Linked DNA regions of Homo sapiens: region 1 is linked to region 2. The links come from fine-mapping of genetic effects on gene expression. A gene starts in region 2. The other region holds a variant in brackets. All regions are shown on one strand. Distances are between the middles of the regions.

The links.
Region 1: its variant is fine-mapped to the expression of CC2D1A in non-classical monocytes (Schmiedel 2018, PIP 0.95).

What each region holds. Positions count from the first base shown.
Region 1 is chr19:13,921,499-13,932,614 of GRCh38, forward strand. It overlaps CC2D1A (coiled-coil and C2 domain containing 1A), which reads left to right. Exons shown (of 29, transcript NM_017721.5): 15 at 1,835-1,957; 16 at 2,050-2,108; 17 at 2,197-2,313; 18 at 5,019-5,092; 19 at 5,169-5,227; 20 at 5,323-5,374; 21 at 5,480-5,579; 22 at 5,677-5,767; 23 at 6,395-6,532; 24 at 6,626-6,690; 25 at 7,881-7,944; 26 at 8,036-8,162; 27 at 8,580-8,656; 28 at 8,744-8,791; 1 more. The coding sequence ends at 8,897. It overlaps PODNL1 (podocan like 1), which reads right to left. Exons shown (of 10, transcript NM_001370095.3): 9 at 10,466-10,614; 10 at 9,689-10,389. The coding sequence ends at 10,239. Among named protein-coding and RNA genes, the nearest start is that of PODNL1, 11 kb to the right of the region's middle. RefSeq lists a silencer at 44-244. The variant G/A (reference allele first, on the strand shown) is at 5,791.
Region 2 is chr19:13,900,576-13,911,691 of GRCh38, forward strand. It overlaps CC2D1A (coiled-coil and C2 domain containing 1A), which reads left to right and starts at 5,626. Exons shown (of 29, transcript NM_017721.5): 1 at 5,626-5,926; 2 at 9,248-9,383. The coding sequence starts at 5,867. It overlaps BRME1 (break repair meiotic recombinase recruitment factor 1), which reads right to left and starts at 5,542. Exons shown (of 9, transcript NM_001345843.2): 1 at 5,140-5,542; 2 at 4,287-4,338. The coding sequence starts at 4,317. RefSeq lists a silencer at 5,941-6,000.

The DNA.
Region 1 (11,116 bases), 21 kb after region 2:
GCCACCCCTGCCTCAAAGAAAGACAGCCAGGATTCCTCATGTGATAGAATAGTACTCATAATAGGAAACATTTGAGGAGCTTGAACTGGGCGCCCAGCAAAGGCCACCCAGTTTAAGGAAGTGACATCACTTTTGCTTGCCTCCCATTGGCCCAAACAGTCACATGGCTACATTTAGCCTCAGAGGAGCCTGGGACATGTAGTCTTTGCTGGACACTGGAGACATGGCCTTGAGCAAAAAAGGCAAAAATCCACACTCTCTCTGGACATGGTGGGTCACACCTGTAATTCCAGCTACTTGGGAGGCTGAGGTGGGAGGATTCCTTGAGGCCAGGAGCTCGAAACTAGCCTGGGAAACACAGTGAGACTCACTGTCATGGAGTGGATGTTCTAATTGAGAGACCACAAGAAACACACAAATAAATACAGCACCTTATCACGGCCCATGAAGACTGCACCATCTGCCCCATCAGCTCCCTTGCCTGGTCTCTTTCTTGTTTTTGTTTTGTTTTGTTTTGTTTTGAGACGGAGTCTCGCCCTGTCATCCAGGCTGGAATGCAGTGGCACGACCTCAGCTCACTGCAACCTCTACCTCCCAGGCTCAAGCGATTCTCCTGCCTTAGCCTCCCGAGTAGCTGGAACTACAGGCACACGCCACCATGCCCGGCTAATTTTTATATTTTTAGTAGAGATGGGGTTTCACTATGTTGGCCAGGCTGGGCTTGAACTCCTGACCTCAGGCAATCCACCTGCCTCGACCTCCCAAAGTGCTGGGATTACAGGCATGAGCCACTGTGCCCGGCCTGCCCCTTCTCTTTCACCCACCCCCTCGCTCACTCTTCCCCTTGCTGTCTGGTAGCCTCAAACACCAGGCACTCTGCAACCTCAGGGCCTTTGCACATGCAGTTCCCACTGCCTGAATGCTTTTCCCACAGACACCTGTGTGGTTCACTTTCTCCCATCATTAGGTCTCTGCTCAGACATCACATCTCCAGGAGGCCTACCCTGAGCTGTCTAAAATCCCTCCCTGTCACCCAGATCCCTCTGCTCCTCCTCCCAGCTCTGCCTCTCCCTGTGGCATGTATCACCTTCTACTCTCTCATATGATTTACTTATTTCTTCTGATTATTGCCCATCTCCCCCAAGAGAATGTCAGCCCCACGAGGGCAGGGATTTTGTTCTCTCTTCTTCATCCTTGTGTCCCCAGCCCCAAAGCAGAGCCTAGCGCACAGTAGGGGCTCCATACATGATTTCTCAAACTCTTGAGCTCAAGCAATCCACCCGCCTTAGCCTCCCAAAGTTCTGGGATTATAGACATGAGCCACTGCACCCGGCACCATACATGATTTCTGGGGTGACTGAAGGATGCCCTTGTTAAATGGGACAATGGAAGGATCAAGAAGAAAGAACAGAGGCCGGGCATGGTCTTTCATGCCTGTAATCCTAGCAATTAAGGAGGCCAAGGCCAGCGGATCACTTGAGGTCAGGAGTTCGAGACCAGTCTGGCCAACATGGTGAAACCCTGTCTCTACTAAAAATACAAAAATTAGCCAGGTGTGGTGGCAGGCGCCTGTAATTCCAGCTACTCAGGAGGCTGAGGCAGGAGAATCACTTGAACCCGGGAGGTGGAAGTTGCAGTGAGCTGAGATCCCGCCATTGCACTCCAGCCTGGGCAACAGAGCGAGACTCCATCTCAAAAAAAAAAAAAGACCAGAGAAGGGTGACAGAGCCGTGGTCAGGGAATGCCCCTCGTCAAGGAAGAATGACATTTCTGCAGAGCCCTAGGTGGGCCTGCTTGTCCTCCTTACCCCCGCCACCAGCCTCGTCCTCCCCAGGTGCCGCCTGCCCCTGTCAACAAGGACGACTTTGCCCTGGTCCAGCGGCCTGGCCCGGGTCTGTCTCAGGAGGCCGCCCGGCGCTATGGTGAACTCACCAAGCTCATACGGCAGCAGCACGAGGTGAGGGGGAGGCCCCCAGCCCATCCCCCAGGAGCGTGACCCTCCTTCCCCTCTCTTCCCTTCCCTCGACTCACTGCCTTCTGTTTCCCCAGATGTGCCTGAACCACTCAAACCAATTCACCCAGCTGGGCAACATCACTGAAACCACCAAGTAAGTGCCCTGACCTGTGCCAGACACTTGCACCCCCAGCCACCCATCCCCAGGGCCAGGGACATGAGCAGGGCCCTCCCACCGGCAGGTTTGAAAAGTTGGCGGAGGACTGTAAGCGGAGCATGGACATTCTGAAGCAAGCCTTCGTCCGGGGTCTCCCCACGCCCACCGCCCGCTTTGAGCAAAGGACCTTCAGCGTCATCAAGTAAGGCTCCTGATCTACGCCCCACCACGTGGCCCCAGTGGCCCTTTGGTGGCGGTGGGGCGGGTTGTGCTCCCCAGAAGCTGGCACAAGATTTACATCTGGAAGAAATTTTGGATAGGTGGAAGAGCACAGAGCATGCAAAGGCTCTGGGGCAGGCATGAGATACAAGTGAAGGATGGTGAGGGTGCAGTCACAGTGACGCATTTGGGAAAGATCTAGAGAGTGCAAAGGTGTATCTTGTCCCAGGGCCTGGGTGAGTCCACGGGGGACCAGAGATGAGTCACGGCTTTGGTGGGTGTTAGTCTTGGTACTATCAAGTCTTCCCATGCCCAGAGGAGCGGGGATTGTTTTCTCCACTTTATTTTTATTTTTATTTTGAGACAGAGTCTCACTCTGTTGCCCAGGCTGGAGTGCAGGGGTGTGATCTCTGCTCACTGCAAGCTCCACCTCCTGGATTCATGCCATTCTCCTGCCTCAGCCTCCCGAGAAGCTGGGACTACAGCCGCCCACCACCACGCCTGGCTAATTTTTTGTATTTTTAGTAGAGACGGGATTTCACCGTGTTAGCCAGGATGGTCTCGATCTCTTGACCTCGTGATCCGCCCACCTCGGCCTCCCAAAGTGCTGGGATTACAGGCGTGAGCCACCACTCCCGGCCTTTTTTAAAATTTTTTTTCTGAGACAGTCTCACTTTGTCACCCAGGCGGGAGTACAGTGGCGCAATCTCAGCTCACTTCAACCTCTGCCTCCCAGGTTCAAGCAATTCTCCTGCCTCAGCCTCCCAAATAGCTGGGACTACAGGTGCCCACCACCATGCCCAGCTAATTTTTGTATTTTTAGTAGAGACGGGGTTTCATTCAGTTGGCCAGGCTGGTCTCCTTAAATGATCCGCCTGCCTTGGCCTCCCAAAATTCTGGGGTTACAGGAGTGAGCCACTGCGTCCGGCCCATTTTCTCCACTTTCTAAATGAGGTTAGGTGCAGCCACTAGCCCTCCGGTGGTTCCCAGCTGCCCTTGGGATAACCCCCACCCCTTACCCTGGCTCCCCCATCTCCACACAGCCTGGCTCCTTGTCACCTCTTCTCTGCCTCCTGTCCCCGCTTCACTCAGCTTTGGCCACAAGGGACTCTTTTTGGTCCCTCCTACAAACAAAGTGTGTTCCTACCCCAAGCCTCTGCATCAGCTATTTCTTCCGCCTTCACCCTCTTCCTCAGGTCTCCATGTGGCAGCTCCCTCTTGACATCTAGAGTCACCTATGATGTCACCTTCCCTCTAAGAGGCCCTCCCTATCTATCCGAGCAGTCTCTTCTGAGCACACTCCACTCTCCCCTCTCTGCTGAGTTTTTTATTGTTTTTCTATTTATGTACTTATGCTCATCTGTCCACTCAGCTAGATTGAGCACAGGGTATGGGTATTTACTTCTAGATCCCCAGCAGCTAGGGTACTGACTGGCACATAGTAGGTGCTCAAGAAATATTGTGAAATGAGGCCAGGCGTGCTGGCTCACGCCTGTAATCCCAGCACTTTGGGAGGCTGAGGTGGGTGGATCACGAGGTCAGGAGATCGAGACCATTCTGGCTAACATGGTGAAATCCCGTCTCTACTAAAAATACACAAAATTATCCGGGCGTGGTGGTAGGCGCCCATAGTCCCACCTTCTTAGGAGGCTGAGGCAGGAGAATGGCATGAACCTGGGAGGCAGAGCTTGCAGTGAGCAGAGATCGCACTGCACTCCAGCCTGGGCGACAGAGTGAGACTGTCTCAAAAAAAAAAGAAATATTGTGAAATGAATAGAAGGTCCCCCAGCAACTAGGACACTAGCTGGTGCTTTAATAGGACTCAAAAAATATTAAGTGAGGCCAGGCTGGGAGGCCAAGGCAGGCGGATCATTTGAGGTCGGGAGTTCGAGACCAGCCTGGCCAACATGGTGAAACCCCATCTCTACTAAAAATATAAAAATTATCCAGCAGTGGTGGCGGGCAGCTGTAATCCCAGCTACTCAGGAGGCTGAGGCAGAAGAATCTCTTGAATCTGGGAGGTGGAGGTTGCAGTGGGCTGAGGTCGTACCATTGTACTCCAGCCTGGGCGACAGAGCAAGACTCTGTCTAAAAAAAAAAAAAAAATATATATATATATATATATATATATACACGTATATATATGTGTATATATATATACATATATGTGTGTATATATATATATACGTATATATATGTGTATATATATATATATACACGTATATATATGTATATATACACACACACACACACACACACATATATATTAAGTGAAAAGAAGGTCCCCCAGCAGCTGGGGTACTGGCTGGCACATAGTAGGTGCTCAAGAAACATTGGGAAATGAAGGAAAGATCTCCCAGCAGCTAGGGCACTGGCTGATGCTTAGTAGGACTCAACAACTGTTAAGTGAAGGGAATATCACCCAGCAGCTAGGGTACCTAGCACACAGTAGATACCAAATAAATATACACAGACTGAAGAAAAGACTCGAAAGTGATCCATTGCCAACCTGAACAGAGAACTCTAGTCTGTCTGATTCTAAAATGAGCCCAGGAGCTGAGACACCCCCGAAGGCCAGGGTGGGGTTTGTTCCCTGCCCCCACTGGGGGAAGAGAAGGCAGGCGGGCAGTGGGACTGAGGTGCCTCTGTTTCCCTGCCCACCTGCCTGCCCACCTGCCCACCCGGAAGGATCTTCCCTGACCTCAGCAGCAACGACATGCTCCTCTTCATCGTGAAGGGCATCAACTTGCCCACACCCCCAGGTGAGGGGGCTGTAGGCAAGGGTCAGGGTCATGGGGACCCCCTCTCTGCCCAGCTCTGACCGTTGTTTGCCCACAGGACTGTCCCCTGGCGATCTGGATGTCTTTGTTCGGTTTGACTTCCCCTATCCCAACGTGGTACGTGGGGAGCTGAGGAGGGGAGGGCTGCAGCCTCAGTGGGCCAAAGCCAGGTCCCAGGCCCCCTAGATTTCCTGCCTCCTCTCTGGTCATAGGAAGAAGCTCAGAAAGACAAGACCAGTGTGATCAAGAACACAGACTCCCCTGGTGAGCCTCGGCTGGAAGCACCCTACCCCTACTCCCTTGCAGCAGAAGGGACATAAGACAATGGCCTGACCCCACCCAACTTCCTCTCCCTCCTTCCTCCTGCAGAGTTCAAGGAGCAGTTCAAACTCTGCATCAACCGCAGCCACCGTGGCTTCCGAAGGGCCATCCAGACCAAGGGCATCAAGTTCGAAGTGGTTCACAAGGGGTGAGCTAGAGAGAGCCATGGCCGCTGGGTGGGCTCCAGGGGAGGGGAGCTCCTCTGAACCAACCATCCTGTCCCCACTATACACACATGCACACAGGGGGCTGTTCAAGACTGACCGGGTGCTGGGGACAGCCCAGCTGAAGCTGGATGCACTGGAGATAGCATGTGAGGTCCGGGAGATCCTTGAGGTGAGAGGTGGACATTCATCCGC[G/A]TGCTCCGGTATGGCCATGCTACTCGTTAACATTATTAAAACACTTCCTGCCTTGAGCCCTCTATGAGCCTGTCTGTTGACCCAGCCCCTCCCCTCAGAGCCTCAGACCTCCCTACTGCCCAGCCCTAAATACTTGCAGTACCCCACTCCATTATGATCAACTGGTATCTCAGCCATACCATGGGCTCATATTTTAGAAACCACTCTTGGCCAGGCATGGTGGCTCATGCCTGTAATCCCAGCACTTTGGGAGGCTGAGGCGGGCAGATCACGAGGTCAGGAGATCGAGACCATCCTGGCTAACATGGTGAAACCCTGTTTCTACTAAAATACAAAAAAATTAGCCAGGCATGGTGGCGGGCGCCTGTAGTCCCAGCTACTCGGGAGGCTGAGGCAGGAGAATGGCGTAAGTAAACCCAGGAGGCGGAGCTTGCAGTGAGCCCAGATTGCACCACTGCACTCCAGCCTGGACAACAGAGCGAGACTCTATCTCAGAAAAAAAAAAAACCAAAAAAAAAAACCAGTCTTGTTCTCCCTTGTCCTGGCCCTGGGCCTCTAGTCACTTCCTGCTTCCCACCAACAGTTTCTCCTTACCCCCACCCAGGTCCTGGATGGTCGCCGGCCCACAGGGGGGCGACTGGAGGTAATGGTCCGGATTCGGGAGCCACTGACAGCCCAGCAGTTGGAGACGACGACAGAGAGGTGGCTGGTCATTGACCCTGTGCCGGCAGCTGTGCCCACAGTGAGACCCCCCACCCCCACCCATCAGCAACCCCAGGGAGGGAAGCTTGGTTCAGGGGCCCAGGACTCACAGGACTGGTTCTCTCCTCTGAAGCAGGTTGCTGGGCCCAAAGGGAAGGCCCCTCCTGTGCCTGCCCCTGCAAGGGAGTCAGGGAACAGGTAGGTATCTGGGCCAGGGCATGCTGGAGAAAACACCCAATTCCCCTCTCAGCCCCACCTGGACAGTTTCCCACCAGGCACAAATTGGACCACGTCCCTCTCCTGCTGCAAAACCTTTCTTGGCACCCCTTTTCCCAGAGGATCCAGTTTAAACTCCTTGGTTTGGTCTTTAAAACCTTTTGTGATCTGACCATTGTCAACATATCCAGGCTTCTCTCTCCCTACTCCCTCCTGTGGTTCATGTCCATGAATAGTTTTCACTGGCCTCTGGACTTCTGTGGGTTCCAGTGCCCTGAACACCCCTACCTAGGGTAGGGGTGTTCCTTGTTCCTCTGCCCACCTCTGATTCCTTCTTTGGATCCCAACTTGGCTGTTACCTCCTCCAGGAAGCCCTCCCTGACCACTAGGCATCATAGTTTCCTGGGTGTGCAGCCATCATCCCCGCTAGGTTTTGGGATCAGTAACACCGGGTGGTTCTCGGCTGTCTCCCACCATACCCCCAGTGCCCAGTGTGTCTTTTTTTTTTTTTTTTTTTTTTGAGACAGAGTCTAGCTCTGTCGCCCAGGCTAGAGTGCAATGGCGCGATCTCAGCTCACAGCAACCTCCGCCTCTGGGGTTCAAGCGATTCTCCTGCCTCAGCCTCCTGAGTAGCTGGGATTACAGGCATGCGCCACCACACCCAGCTAATTTTTCTATTTTTAGTAGAGATGGGGTTTCTCCATGTTGGTCAGGCTGGTCTCGAACTCCCGACCTCAGGTGATCTGCCTGCCTCGGCCTCCCAAAGTGCTGGGATTACAGGCATGAGCTACCATGCTCGGCTTTTTTTTTTTTTTGAGACAGAATCTTGCTCTGTCACCCAGGTTGGAGTGCAGTGGTGTGATCTCGGCTCATTGCAACCTCCAGCTCCCAGGTTCAAGCAATTCTTCTGCCTCAGCCTCCCAAGTAGCTGGGACTACAGGAGCACACCACCATGCCCAGCTAATTTTTTTTCTATTTTTAGTAGAGACGGGGTTTCACCATATTGGCCAGGCTGGTCTCGAACTCCTGACCTCATGATCCACTCACCTCCGCCTCCCAAAGTGCAGGGATTACAGGCGTGAGCCACTGTGCCCAGCCCAGTGTGTCTTTTGAATTAACAGGGTTGGGCTGGGGGAATCTCTGCAGTCCCTTATCCTTCCTCCACCCCTTAGATCAGCCCGGCCCCTGCATAGCCTCAGTGTGCTGGCGTTTGACCAAGAGCGTCTGGAGCGGAAGGTGGGTATCCATCCTGCCGGGCTACATGGGGCAGGACTGGGGAGTCTGCAGGCCCAGGCAGGATCCTCACAGGACCCTCTGTATCCTCTAGATCCTGGCCCTCAGGCAGGCGCGGCGGCCGGTGCCCCCAGAAGTGGCCCAGCAGTACCAGGACATCATGCAACGCAGCCAGTGGCAGAGGGCACAGCTGGAGCAGGGGGGTGTGGGCATCCGACGGGGTAGGGGTTTGGAGATGGGCATCTGGTGGGGGAGGAGCTCCAGGATAGGCATGGGGGGGGAGGTGCTCAGGGATGCATATCTGGTGGGGGAGGGGCTCGGGGATGGGCATCTGGAGAGGGAGGGGCTCGGGGATGGGCACCTGGAGGGGGAGGGGCTCGGGGATGGGCACCTGGAGGGGGAGGGGCTCGGGGATGGGCATCTGGAGAGGGAGGGGCTCGGGGATGGGCACCTGGAGGGGGAGGGGCTCGGGGATGGGCACCTGGAGGGGGAGGGGCTCGGGGATGGGCACCTGGAGGGGGAGGGGCTCGGGGATGGGCACCTGGCGGGGGACGGGCTTGGGGATGGGCACAGTCCAGGAGGGTTGTGGGCAGTGAGGCCCCACCCTAAGCCTCCATTCCCCCGCCATCCATTCTCAGAATACGCAGCCCAGCTGGAGCGGCAGCTGCAGTTCTACACGGAGGCTGCCCGGCGCCTGGGCAACGATGGCAGCAGGGTGAGCTGGTCGCGGGCCGGGTGGGCACTGGGCAGCGGGCAGGGTGGGGCCTGCAGGGACTACCTGCTGAATGCCCATCCCCCACAGGATGCTGCAAAGGAGGCGCTCTATAGGCGGAATCTGGTAGAGAGTGAGGTAAGCAGCTTAGGAGATGGGGTGGTTGGGGGATCACTGTGGTCGTAGCCCACCTCCATGACCCCAGTGGCCTCCTCTCCCCCAGCTGCAGCGGCTCCGCAGGTGAGGAGCCCATGGGGCGGGCAGCCCCCAGAAAGCGGGCAGCAGGCCCCGATACCGGGAAGAGCCGACACAGCCACGAACCAGACAAGCAGACAATCAGCGGACAATCGGTTCTGGACTCACCCCTCATCCGGGCCCCCAGCCCCGCCAGAGCCTCCGTGGCTGCGGGTGTTGGGAACCATGCCTGCCAGCCAGTATGTGCCCCTCACCCAGGCCTGGCTGGGCCCTGGAGAGTCCTGTTTGCACAGCCCAGGGGTGTCCGGCCTCTGGCCCGCCCCGGAGCAGGGAGGGTGGCTGGGGCCAAGCCCCGAGGGCCCCTGCAAGCACTTTACTTCCTGTTCCTCCCCAGCCTTAACCCCAAAGCCCTCCTGCACCCCAAAGAAGCCACTGAGGCTGGCCGAGCCACACTGTCTCCCCAGGGGCGTCGACCTGGCCCAGCTGGGTCCCCAGGGCCAGCACATGGAATAAAATAGCCAGGGCCACACTCAGCCCAGCTCTGTCCTGTCTGTTTCTTGCTCAGACCCTCGGTGGCCAGGCTAGGTCTTCCCACCCACCCCCCGGTTCCCCTGGAAGTGGATGGGGAGGCGCCTGTTAGGGAAGCAGTTTTGGGGAGGGACAGTGTGCTTGTGAAAGGTGCTTTTTTTTTTTTTTTTTAGAGACCGGGTTTCCCTCTGTCACCCAGGCTGCAGCGCAGTGGCACAATCAGCTCATTGCAGCCTCCGACTCCTGGGCTCACATGATCCTCCTGCCTCAGCCTCCTAACGGATTACAGAAGGGCACCACCACACACCCAGCTTGAAGGATGCATTTCATTCCCATGCTTGCTGTGGGGGGGGATACATGTGAGGGTCCCTATATCTGTCACCCAGTGTTTTTTCAGTGGGTGGCCTTGGGCGTCCCTGCAATCACACGTGGCTAGGTCGCACAGGGTGCTGTTTGGTGACCCCAGTGTGTGCCTCAAGACCTCAAAATTCAGTCCTGACCCACTTAGCATCCCAGAGCCTCAGTTTCCCCAGCTGGACTGGTTGTGGGGAGGAGTCCGTGGACAGAGCCCCCAAAGGGTGCCTGGTCCGTGCTGAGTGCTGGAAGGGTTTGGCTTTATTGTTGCTGCCTCCATCTGTGTTGGGAGTTTGGGGTAGGGTGTGTCCCGCCAGGCCGGCGTGGTCTGTGAGCCTGGAGTATGCCAGCTGTGTGCCTCTGTGTCTCGGCCAGTGGCAGGCAGAGCAGGCCCAGCCCTGGAGGCCCAGGAGAGCCAGACCAAGGGCCCCTGGTGGGCGTTGTCTCCTCAGTCCACGGCCCAGCGGAGTCCCAGGAGTCTGAGCTGCTCTGCTGGGCCTCTCTAGGATCAGGGGCCCCCTGCCCGTGGCCCACGTGGGGTGGTGGGAGGCAGCCGGATCAGGACCTGCTCCGGATTCCCTGCCGTGTCCACCACACGCAGGTTTGGGAGCCCCAGGAAGGCCTCAGCCGCGATGCTCGTCATGTGAAGCCTGTTGGCCCTGCACAGAGAGGCGGTCATGACCCTCCCAGGCCCTCCCCTGCCCACCTCCACCCCTCCGGTCACCCTCGGGGCACCTGAGGAAGAGGGCACGCAGGCGGGGTGTGCTGAGGAAGGCCTCGGGGCCCACGTGGCCGATGCGGTTGCCCTCGAGGTGCAGCTCCTCTAGGGCCTCAGGCAGGTCCGGGGGCACAAAGGACAGCTCATTGTGGCTGAGGTCCAGCATCTGGGCAGGGGGTTATAGATGGCATCGTGGCAGCCCCAGGCCTGGGCCACTCAGCTCAGCCAGCCCCCAACCTCTCTGAGAGTCCCCTGCCCCCTTCATACCAGCCTGGCCCTTCTGCCCCCCACCCCCCATGATTGCCAAATTCCTCCCTTCTGCAGAGGTAAACTAAGGCCCTTCCCAGGAAGGCACAGACAGACAGGTCCCCACTTGATTAAATGAGTCAGTCATTGAATCGCACCATACCTCTTTCATCACTTTTTTTTTCAAGAGACAGGGTCTTGCTCTGTTGCCCAGTCTAGAGGGCAGTGGCCCGATCACGGCTCATTGCAGCCTCAAACTTCTGGGCTCAAGCGATCCTCCTGCCTCAGCCTCCTGAATAGCTGGGACTACAGGCATGTGCCACCACGCTTGGCTATGTTTTTTTGGTAGAGATAGGGTCTTGCTGTGTTGCCAGGCTGGTCTCAAACCCATAGCCTAAAGCGATTCTCCTGCCTTGGCTCCC
Region 2 (11,116 bases):
ACTAAATTAAAAAGTCATTTCAAAATTTTGAAGAAATTTAACTTACTTTAGAAAATGATAGGCAAATGGAACTCTACTACATCATATTGGGAGTTTGTCTTTCTGACTTGGTTTGTTCCTTTTTTTTTTTAGACAGAGTCTCACTCTGTCGCCCAGGCTGGAGTGCAGTGGTGCAATCTCAGCTCTCCTGGGCTCAAGCGAGTCTCGTGTCTCAGCCTCCCAAGTAGCTGGGATTACAGACACATGCCACCATGCCCGGCTAATTTTTGTGTTTTTAGTACAGATGGGGTTTCACCATGTTGACCAGGTTGGTCTCGAACCCTGACCTCAAATGATCCATCCACCTGCCTCGGCCTCCCAAAGTGCTCAGATTACAGGCATGAGCCATCGTGCCCAACAATCTTTCTTTTTTTCTAAGAGACAGGGTTTTGTTCTGTGGCCCAGGCTGGAGTGCAGGCGCAATCATAGCTCACTGCAGCCTGGAACTCCTCAGCTCAAGCCATCCTCCTGCCTCAATCTCCCAAGTAGCCAGGACTACAGGTAGGCACCACCACACTGGTTAATTAAAATTTTTTTTTTTTTTTAGAGACTGGGTAACATTATGTTGCTCAGGCTGGTCATGAACTCCTGGTCTCAGGCAATCCTTTCACCTCGGCCTCCCAAGTAGCCTGGAGTACAGGTGCGTACCACCAAGCCTGGCTATTTTGGGGTGTTTTTCTTTTCAAATGATGAAATTGTATAGGTATGTTGACAAGTAAACATGGTCATGATCTACCACAAAGTGAAAAATGGAGGTTGCAGATCAGTAAGTGTGATGATTCGATTTTCCAATAAAAACATTTTATCTGGGCCAGGCACGGTGGCTCATGCCTGTAATCTTTGGGAGGCTGAGGCAGGCGGATAACTTGAAGTCAGGAGTTAGAGAGCAGCCTAGCCAACATGGTGAAACCCCGTCTCTACTAAAAATGCAAAAATTTGCCAGGCATGGTGGCAGGTACCTGTAATCCCAGCTACTCAGGAGGCTGAGGCATGAGCATCACTTGAACCCAGGAGGCAGAGGTTACAGTGAACCAAAATCGTGCCACTGCACTCCAGCCTGGGTGACAGAGTGAGACTGTCTCCAAAAAAAAAAAAAAGAAAAAAGCTCAACACTGTATCTGTATATATACAGAAAAAGTCTGACCAGGCATGGTGGCTCATGCCTGTAATTCTGAGCACATTGGGAGGCCAAGGCAGGTGGACTGCTGGAGCCCAGAAGTTCAAGACCAGCCTGGGCAACATAGTGAGGCCTCGTCTCTTCCAAAAAATACAAAAATTAGCCAGTCATGGTGGCACACACCTGTAGTCCCAGCTATTCCGGAGGCTGAGGTGGGAAGATCACCTGAGCCTGGGGAGGTCGAGGCTGCAGCGAGCTATGATTGTGCCACTGCTCTCCAGCCTGGGCGACAAAGCAAGACTCTGTCTCGAAAAAAAGAAAAAAAAAAAAGCTGGGTATGGTGGCTCACTCCAGTAATCCCAGCACTTTGGCTGAGGCGGGCAGATCATGTGAGGCCAGGAGTTCAAGATCAGCCTGGGCAACATGGTGAAACCCCATCTCTACTACAAATACAAAAATTATCTGAGCGTGGTGGCAGACACCTGTAATCCCAGCTACTCAGGAGGCTGATGCAAGAGAATCGCTTGAAACCAGGAGGCGGAGGCTGCAGTGAGTCAAGATCGTGCCACTGCACTCCAGTCTGGGCAACAGAGTGAGACATCATCTTAAAAAAAAGTCTGAGCTGGGCGCGCTGGCTCATGCCTGTAATCCCAGCACTTTGGGAGGCCGAGATGGGCGGATCACCTGAGGTTGGGAGTTCGAGACCAGCCTGACCAACATGGAGAAACCCCATCTCTACTAAAAATACAAAAAAATTAGCTGGGCATGGTGGCATATGCCTGTAATCTCAGTTACTTGGGAGGCTGAGGCAGGAGAATTGCTTGAATCTAGGAGGCAGAGGTTGCGGTGAGCCGAGATCGCGCCAGCCTGGGCAACAAGATCAAGACTCTGTCTCAAAAACAAAAACAAAAAAGTCTGGGCTGGGCGCGGTGGCCTACTCCTGTATCCCCAGCACTTTGGGACACCAAGACGGGCAGATCACCTGAGGTTGGGAGTTCAAGACCAGCCTGACCAAACCCTGACTCTACTAAAAAAATACAAAAATTAGCTCAGCATGGTGGTGGGTGCCTGTAATCCCAGCTACTTGGGAGGCTGAGGCAGGAGAATCGCCTGAACTTGGGAGGTGGAGGTTGCAGTAAGCCGAGATCGCGCCACTGCACTCCAGCCTGGGCAACAAGAGCGAAACTCCGTCTCAAAAAAAAAAAAAAAAGTCTAGAAGCAGTGTACCGAGGTTAGAGTCCTGTCCTGTTTTTCATGCTGTTCTACAGTTGATCACTGTCCTATGGCTATGCTAGATGTCAACATTAGGGAAAGCTTGGAGAAGGGTAGCTAGAACTCTCTGAATTATTTTTGCAACTTTTCTTTAAGTCCCAGATTACTTCAAAATAAAAGTTTTCTTAAAAGTCTGGAAGAAGAATTGTTAACAGCAGTGTACATTTGTGTACTACCTTAGGTCAGTTCTGGGTGCTTTACAGATACTAATCCACATGTGAGCTCTAAGGGCAGGATTCTTCACCTTGGAGGACATTTGGGGCTGGATCATTCTCTGTGGCTGGGGGGCATCCTATGCATGGTAGGATATTTGAGCAGCATCCCTGGCCTCCACCCACTAGATGTCAGTATAATTTCCCCAGTTATGAAAACCAAAAAAAGTCTCTAGGCCGGGCACGGTGGCTCCCACCTGTAATCCCAGCACTTTGGGAGGCTGAGGCAGGCAGATCACCTGAGGTCAGGAGTTTGAGACCAGCCTGGCCAACATTGTGAAACCCTATCCCTACTAAAAATACAAAAATTAGGCGGGCGTGGTGGTGCACATCTGTAGTCCCAGCTACTTAGGAGGCTGAGGCTGCAGAATCGCTTGAACCCAGGAGGTGGAGGCTGCAGTGAGCCAAGATCTTGCTACTGCACTCCAGCCTGGACGACAGAGTCAGACTTGGTCTCCAAAAAAAAAAAAAATAAAGTCTCCAAACATTGCCAGCTGTCTCTGGAGGTCAAAATCCCTTCCTCTCACCTAGTTGAGAAACACTGCTCTAAAGGAAAGGGTAGTGGCTTTTATTATCCCCAATTTACAAAAGGGGAAACTGTGGCACAGAGGAAATCATCCACCACCACACACTGAGCAGAACTGGGATGAACCCAGGTTTTGGGCCCCAGAGTAAAACACTCAGCCACATACCGAGTGGCCTTGTAGTACATCAAGCATTATTCCAGGGGTCATCTCTGGGACTGGTTCCGCAGGGAGGCTGTCCCGCTGCCCTGAAGCCCGGGGAGGCCTCCTCTAAGCTGTGGGACCCCACCAGAGGCTTGCAGAAGCTCCAGAAAACTTTCACTTTTACTTTTCCTGTATGCCCTCTCCGTTATTTCTATTTTTCTTTCTTTCTTTTTTTTTTTGAGACAGGGCCTCAATCTATCAGTCAGGATGGAGTGCAGTGGTACGATCTGGATTCACTGCAACCTCCACCTCCCAGTTCAAGCAATCTTCCTGCCTCAACCTCCTGAGTAGCTGGGACTACAGGTGCCTGCCACCACGCCCAGCTAATTTCCTTACTTTACATTGTAGAGACAGGATCTCGCTATGTTGCCCAGGCTGGTCTTGAACTCCTGGACTCAAGCGATCCGCCCACCTCGGCCTCCCAAAGTGCTAGGATTACAGGCGTGAGCCACCACACCGGCCTTCTATTTTTCTTACCAGCATGAATTAAATCCTTTTTGTCTTTTTCTTTTTTTTGAGACAGAGTCTTGCTCTGTTGCCCAGGCTAGAGTGCAGTGGCACCATCTTGGCTCACTGCAACATCGGACTCCCAGGTTCAAACGATTCTCCTGCCTCAGTCTCCCGAGTAGGTGGGACTACAGGCATGTGCCACAACACCTGGCTAATTTTTGTATTTTTAGTAGAGACGGGGTTTCACCATGTTGGTCAGGCTGGTCTTGAACTCCTGACCTTGTGATCTGCCCGCCTCGGCCTCCCAAAGTGCTGAGATTACAGGTGTGAGCCACCGCACCCGGCCAATCCTTGCTTCCTTTTAAGGAGGTTAAGGCAGTCGTGTTAGCCAGATCTGCAATAAACAAGCCCACATTCTTCCCACAAGCAGAAGCAGAAATCAACAAGTGTCCATTTGAATGAACGTACCTGAGGTCCGCAGCTTCTTCCTCTTAGTCATTTTATCTTCCCCTTGAGAAATCTGAAAACAAGCAAAATCTCTCATCATTATAAGCAGTCTCTGTCTCTGTTTATATCCAGTGGCTTTGGCTGAGAGCAGAGGTTACCCCTACCTCCACCTCAGCCCATTTGGCTGCCCCAGGGGTCAGATGGCTCCCACTGGGACACAGGATGGGACACAGAGTCACAGCCACTTTGGGCCATGGCCAGGTAGGAATTCAAACCTCCTCCAAACTGAAGATCTTATGCCCAGGACCTGAAAGACAAATGGGCCCTGGGGGGTCCTTATAGATAGCCCCGGGGACCCAGACTCTGGTCCCTAGGATGAAACAGCCTGTGTGAAGCCCCTCCCTCCAGACTGGGGTATCTGGGGGCCCTTCCAAGGACACTTGAGGACTCTCCAGGGGCCTCTGGAGACCAGCCTGGCCAATATGGTGAAACCCCCTCTCTATTAAAAACACAAAAATTAGCCTGGGCATCGTGACGCACACCTGTAATCCCAGCTACTTGGGAGGCTGAGACAGTAGAATTCCTTGAACCCATGAGGCAGAGGTTGCAGTGAGCCGAGATCGCTCTACTGCACTCCAGCCTGGGCGACAGAGCGAGACTCCGTCTCAAAAAAAAAAAAAAAAATTAGTCAGGTGCGGTGGCACACACCCGTAATCCCAGCTACTCAGGAGGCTGTGGTACAAGGCCAGGAGGCAGAGGTTGCAATGAGCCAAGATCGTGCCACTTTAAAGGGGACAGCTGGGTCCTTGGAGGGGAAAGAGCTGCCATAGGCCGGTTTCTCCCAGCCTTGGGGGCGAGGCAAACCAGAACGGACCTGGGCCACAGAAGTCGTTGAGGACCCTCTGTCCTTATCAGAAACGAGCTCTGCCTGGATCAGTTGGGAATAAGTCGCTTGAATTATCCGCGTTACTCTTTTTGGAAAAAATAAATGGCCAAATTGGCCCTCACAGAACGCTGGAGGCCTCGAGTCCGGAGGTGAAAGATGGAAAGGCCTGAGGGTGGGCGCTGTAGACCCCGCTCCCGGTGACAAGCCCCACACTGACACTACGCCGACCACCGAGAAGTGAGGACTCCACAGGCCGAGAGCCCACGTGAAGCCGGAGCCCGTCGGTGACTGACAGACGCTCTGAACCCCACAGATGTCGCCGCCCCTCACACCTGCGCGCGCTCTGCCTCTTTCCCGCGCCCCGCGAGGTCCCGCCCCGCGCATGAGCGACGCAAACACCGCCCTCGCAGCCCGCGACAGTCAGCACCGCCCCAGCCAGGCGCCTGCGCGCCCACGCACTACCTGCCGGGAGTTGTAGTTTCGGCTCGGCAGACCCGGCGAGCCCAGTGGCCGCGCTCCGGTGCGGCGGCGCCCGAGGCCCGAGGCGGAAGTGGGACGGCCAAGCAGGGAAGCGAGGGCTCGGGATCGACGGCCGCGGGGCGCCGACGAGGAGTGCAGGACTCAGGAAGGGCGAGTGCGCGGCGACAGAGCCCGGGGAAGGAGGCAGGGCAAGGCCGGGCTTGGGGGCAGGTGGTCCGGGCATCCAGCCTTGAAGATGCACAAGAGGAAAGGACCCCCGGGACCCCCGGGCAGAGGCGCCGCGGCCGCCCGCCAGGTGAGTTTGCGCCCCACGGCCCGACCTGGGGATCCCTCCCCACCCCCGTCACTCGCTCAGGGAAGGGCCCCACCCCCCAGGGAAGCCCGATCTCCGCCCCACAGGTAAGCCCCGGTCCCCGCCTCCCCCCAGGTGAGGCTCCAACACCACCCAAGTGTGGCCTACTGGCCTTGGCTCCCCAGCTCCTGGGGCCCTGCCCCGGGTTCGGGGCCACCTGTTGCCACAGCTGCTCCAGTCGAGGAGGGGCAGTCCTCGGACTTGACACATCAAACCCTTGCATCAGTCGGGCCATGTCAGACTCTTTTTATTCCATTGTACAGATGAGGACTTTGAGACTCAGAGACGTGAAGACATCTGCCCAAGGTCATAGGGATTAACAGCTTGGCCAGGGCTAAGCACAAATCCAGGGCTGCAGCCATAAGCTTATGGCACTGTGGCTGGACCCCTTCTCACTCTCCCGACTTCTTTGCCCCAGGCACCAGATAGTTTGATTTTTCTCAGTTTTGATGGAAGGAGCCCAGGACATAGCTTGGTGTTCAGATATTAGAGTCTGGCTGACCTGAAGTTCCCTCCTGGCCTCTGTACATCGGACACTTGACTTTACAGCTCTGAGCCTCAGCTTTCTCATCTGTAAAATGGAGATCTCTATAATCCCAGCACTTCAGGAGATGGAGGCGGAGGCAGAGGTGGGAGAGTCATTTGAGGCCAGAGTTTGAGACCAGCCTGGGCAAAAGCAAGACCCCCGTCTCGACAAAAAAAGACTAACTGGGCATGGTGGCATGTGCCTGTAGTACTACTACTTGGGAGGCTAAGAAGGGAGGATTGCTTGAGCCCAGGAGTTCAAGACCGCAGTGAGCTATGATTGCGCTACTTCTGCTCCAGCCTGGGTGACAGAACAAGACTCTTTCTCTAAAATAAAGATAAAAAATTAAAAATGGAAGTCCGGGGTGGTGTCTCACACCTGTAATCCCAGCACTTTGGGAGGCCATGGCGAAACCCCATCTCTACTAAAAATACAAAAATTAGCTGGGCATGGTGGCGGGCACCTGTAATCCCAGCTACTCGGGAGGCTGAGGTGGGAGAATCGCTTGAACCGAGAGGCGGAGGTTGCAGTGAGCTGAGATCGCGCCACTGCATTCCAGACTGGGTGACAGAGCAAGGCTCCTTCTCAAAATAAATAAATAAATTCCTTCTGAAAATAAATAAATAAATAAAAAATTAAAAATGGAGACCTCCAAGAGACCCTACATTACAGGACAGTTGTAGAGAGTCATTGAGATAGTTTATGGAAAGTGCTAGAACATAGCACTCAATAAATGTTACTATTATCATTATTACTAGTTGGTGGAACCATACATAATTGCCAATATTTGGCCATTTTTTACCTACAGGAAAGGCAATTTCATATGGTTAAACACGATGTTATCACATCATGATTGGTCATTAGCCAAGATAGGAAGACGGGTCTGCATGGCAAACCTGCATTGTGGTTAGGGGTTCTTTTTTTGTTTGTTTGTTTTTGAGACAGAGTCTTGCTCTCTCGCCCCAGGCTGGAGTGCAGTGGCGCAATCTCGGCCCACTGCAACCTCCGCTTCCCGGGTTCAAGCGATTCTCCTGCCTCAGCCTCCCGAGTAGCTGGGATTACAGGCATGCGCCACCATGCCTGGTTAATTTTGTATTTTTTAGTAGAGACGGGGTTTCTCCCTGTTGGTCAGGCTGGTCTGTCTCGAACTCCCCATCTCAGGTGACCCGCCTGCCTCGGCCTCCCAAAGTGCTGGGGTTACAGGCGTGAGCCACCGTGCCCGGCCTAATTTTTGTATTTTTAGTAGTGATGGGATTTCACCATGTTGGCCAGGCTAGTCTCGAACTGCTGACCTCAGGTGATCCCCCCACCTTGGTCTCCCAAAGTGCTGGGATTACAAGCGTGAGCCACTGCACCTGGCCCTGTCGTCAGGGCTTCTAATTGCTCTTCTTTTTTTTTTGGAGACAGAGTCTTGCTCTGTTGCCCAGGCTGGAGTTTGGTGGCGCAATCTCAGCTCACTGCAACCTCCACCTCCCAGGTTCAAGCAATTCTCCTGCCTCAGCCTCCCGAGTAGCTGGGATTGCAGACACCGCCAGCACTCCCAGCTAATTTTTGTATTTTTAGTAGAGACGGGGTTTCACCATGTTGGCTAGGCTGGTCTCGAACTCCTGGATTACAGGCGTGAGCCACCGCATGCAGCCATCATGCTCTTGAAGCCCAACCTTCCCACACAGCCCCTCTGCTGAGGATGCTGGAAAGAAAAGCCCAAGTGTACAGAGTAGCTTTGCTTTGGGCAAAGTGTGGAGCCTGCTTCCTTCCCTCCTTCCCTCCCTCCCTCGCTTCCTTCTTTTTTTCCTTCCTTCCCTCCTTCCTCCCTCCCTCTCTCCCTCCCCGGCTCCATCTCTCTTTCTTTCTTTCCTTTCAACAGGGCTTTACTCTGTTGCCCAGGCGGAGTGCCGTAGCACAGTCATGGCTCACTGCAGCCTTGATCTCCCCAGGCTCAAGTGATCCTCCTGCCTCAGCCTCCCGAGTAGCTGGGACCACAGGCACACAGCACAACTCCCAGCTAATTTTAAAAAGTTTTTTTTCCTGTAATCCCAGCACTTTGGGAGGCCGAGGCGGGCAGATCATGAGGTCAGGAGATCGAGACCATCCTGGCTAACAAGGTGAAACCCCGTCTCTGCTAAAAATACAAAAAAAAAATTAGCCGGGCGTGGTGGCGGGCGCCTGTAGTCCCAGCTACTCGGGATGTTGAGGCAGGAGAATGGCATGAACCCCGGAGGCGGAGGTTGCAGTGAGCTGAGACTGCACCACTGCACTCCAGCCTGGGTGACAGAGCGAGACTCTGTGTCAAAAAAAAACAAAAAACAAAAAACTTTTTTTTTTTTTGTAGAGTTGGGGGTCTCACTGTATTGCCCAGGCTGGTCTGGAACTCCCAGACACAAGCCATCCTCTTGCCTTGGCCTCCCAAAGTGCTGGGATGACAGGCGTGAGCCACTGCGCCCAGCCAGGGGCCTGCTTTTCCCACTGAACTTGGCCCAGCAGCACATCATAAGTGTGGATTCAGATCAGAGAGCTGGGTCTCTTGCCCTTTGCCCCAGGTTGAACTGTGCCAGAGGGCCTGGCCTATCTTGGAACACCTGTTCTGGGCTTGTTCCAGCCTCCTGGCACTCCCCAGGGAAATGGCTTTCCCTGGGAGACCTTGTTTCCTTCCTCCCAAGGGGACTCTCTGGCCATCATGGCTGCCTCTAGCCATGTGGTGAACCAAAGGTCTGACTGAACCCTTGCTGTTCCCCTAGCTGGGCCTGCTGGTTGACCTCTCCCCAGATGGCCTGATGATCCCTGAGGACGGGGCTAACGATGAAGAACTGGAGGCTGAGTTCTTGGCTTTGGTCGGGGGCCAGCCCCCAGCCCTGGAGAAGCTCAAAGGCAAAGGTGAGATGGTTAACACACCCTCAGAACATTTTCTGATCTCCTGCAAGTGGTTCGGGCGCAGAACTGGGGGCACTGGGTAGGTAGGGGAAAGAAGACAGAGAAGACCCCTGTTCTCCTGGAGCCAATGATCTGGGTAAGAGAGTCAAGATCGACTCTGAGGCCGGGCACGGTGGCTCACGCCTGTAATCCCAGCACTTTGGGAGGCCGAGGCAGGCAGATCATGAGGTCAGGAGATTGAGACCATCCCGGCTAACACGGTGAAACTCTGTCTCTACTAAAAATACAAAAAAAAAAAAAAAATTAGCCGGGCGTGGTGGCGGGCGCCTGTAGTCCCAGCTACTCAGGAGGCTGAGGCAGAAGAATGGCGTGAACCAGGGAGGCGGAGCTTGCAGTGAGCCGAGATCGCACCACTGCGCTACAGCCTGGGCGACAGAGCAAGACTCCGTCTCAAAAAAAAAAAAAAAAAAAAAAAGATCAAGTCTGGACCGAGACTGAGAGTTGGAATCCGAGCTCTGCCACTTACTGGTTATGTGACTTGATGAGTCACATCATGTGCTTTGGCCTCAGTTTCACCATCTGTAAAACTGGAATAATAACCATGTTATAGGAGTTAATCTGGAGTCCATAAGTATTTCACCCAGGGCCCCCTCACACACAATAAGCTCATGTCAGCCAGGCACATTGGCTCATGCATGTAATCCCAGCACTCTGGGAGGCCAAGGTGGACAGATCACTTGGGGCCAGGAGTTCGAGACCAGCCTGGCCAACATGGTGAAACCCTGTCTTTACTAAAAATACAAAAATTAGCCAAGCTTGGTGGCGAACACCTGTAATCCCAGCTACTTGGGAGGCTGAGGCATGAGAATCGCTTGAATCCAGGAGGCAGCAGTTGCAGTGGGCAGAGATTGCGCCACTGCACTCCAGCCTGGGTGACAGAGCAAGATCCTGTTTCCAAAAAACAAAAAAGAGAGAAGCTTCATTCAGGCATGAACTACTGTGCTGTTGGCTGTGAATTCAAAGTTAATGAATGAACGATATCTATTCAGGAAGGTGTCTTCAAACAGAAACACACATAGAGCAAGGTTGTGTATTGATCAGTTGATTAAAATTTTGTGACCAGAGCTGGGTGTGGTGGTGCATGCCTGTAATCCCAGCTACTCGGGAGGCTGAGGCAGGAAGATCACTTGAGGCCAAGAGTTTGAGGCTGCAGTGAGCTCTGATTGGGCCACTGCACTCCAGCCTGGGTGACAGAGCAAGATCCTGTCTCCAAAAAAGGTTATGACTGGAGATTCACAGGAACCTAAGCTTAAATTTCCCCTAGGAGCAACAGTCTTATAGTCATTAATTTAGTCTTCAAAGCAGCTTTATAGAATGTAACATAACTAATAACAAGATATTGGCAATATGCTATTCTAAGAGCTTCATTGACCTTCTCTGCTCCAACCTACCTATGAAGGAGGAACTGTTGTCATCCCCGTGTCACAGAGGGAGAAACTGAGGCTCAGAGAGGTGACATCACTTGCCGAAGTTCTCACAGAGAGAAAGTTGCAGAGCTGGGGTTTTTTTTGTTGTTGTTGTGTGTGTGTGTTTTTTTTTTTTTTTTTGGAGACAAACCCTTGCTCTGTTGCCCAGGCTGCAGTGCAGTGGCGCAATCTCAGCTCACTGCGACCTCTGCCTCCTGGGCTTAAGTGATTCTCCTGCCTCAGCCTCTTTAGCAGCGGGGATTACACGCC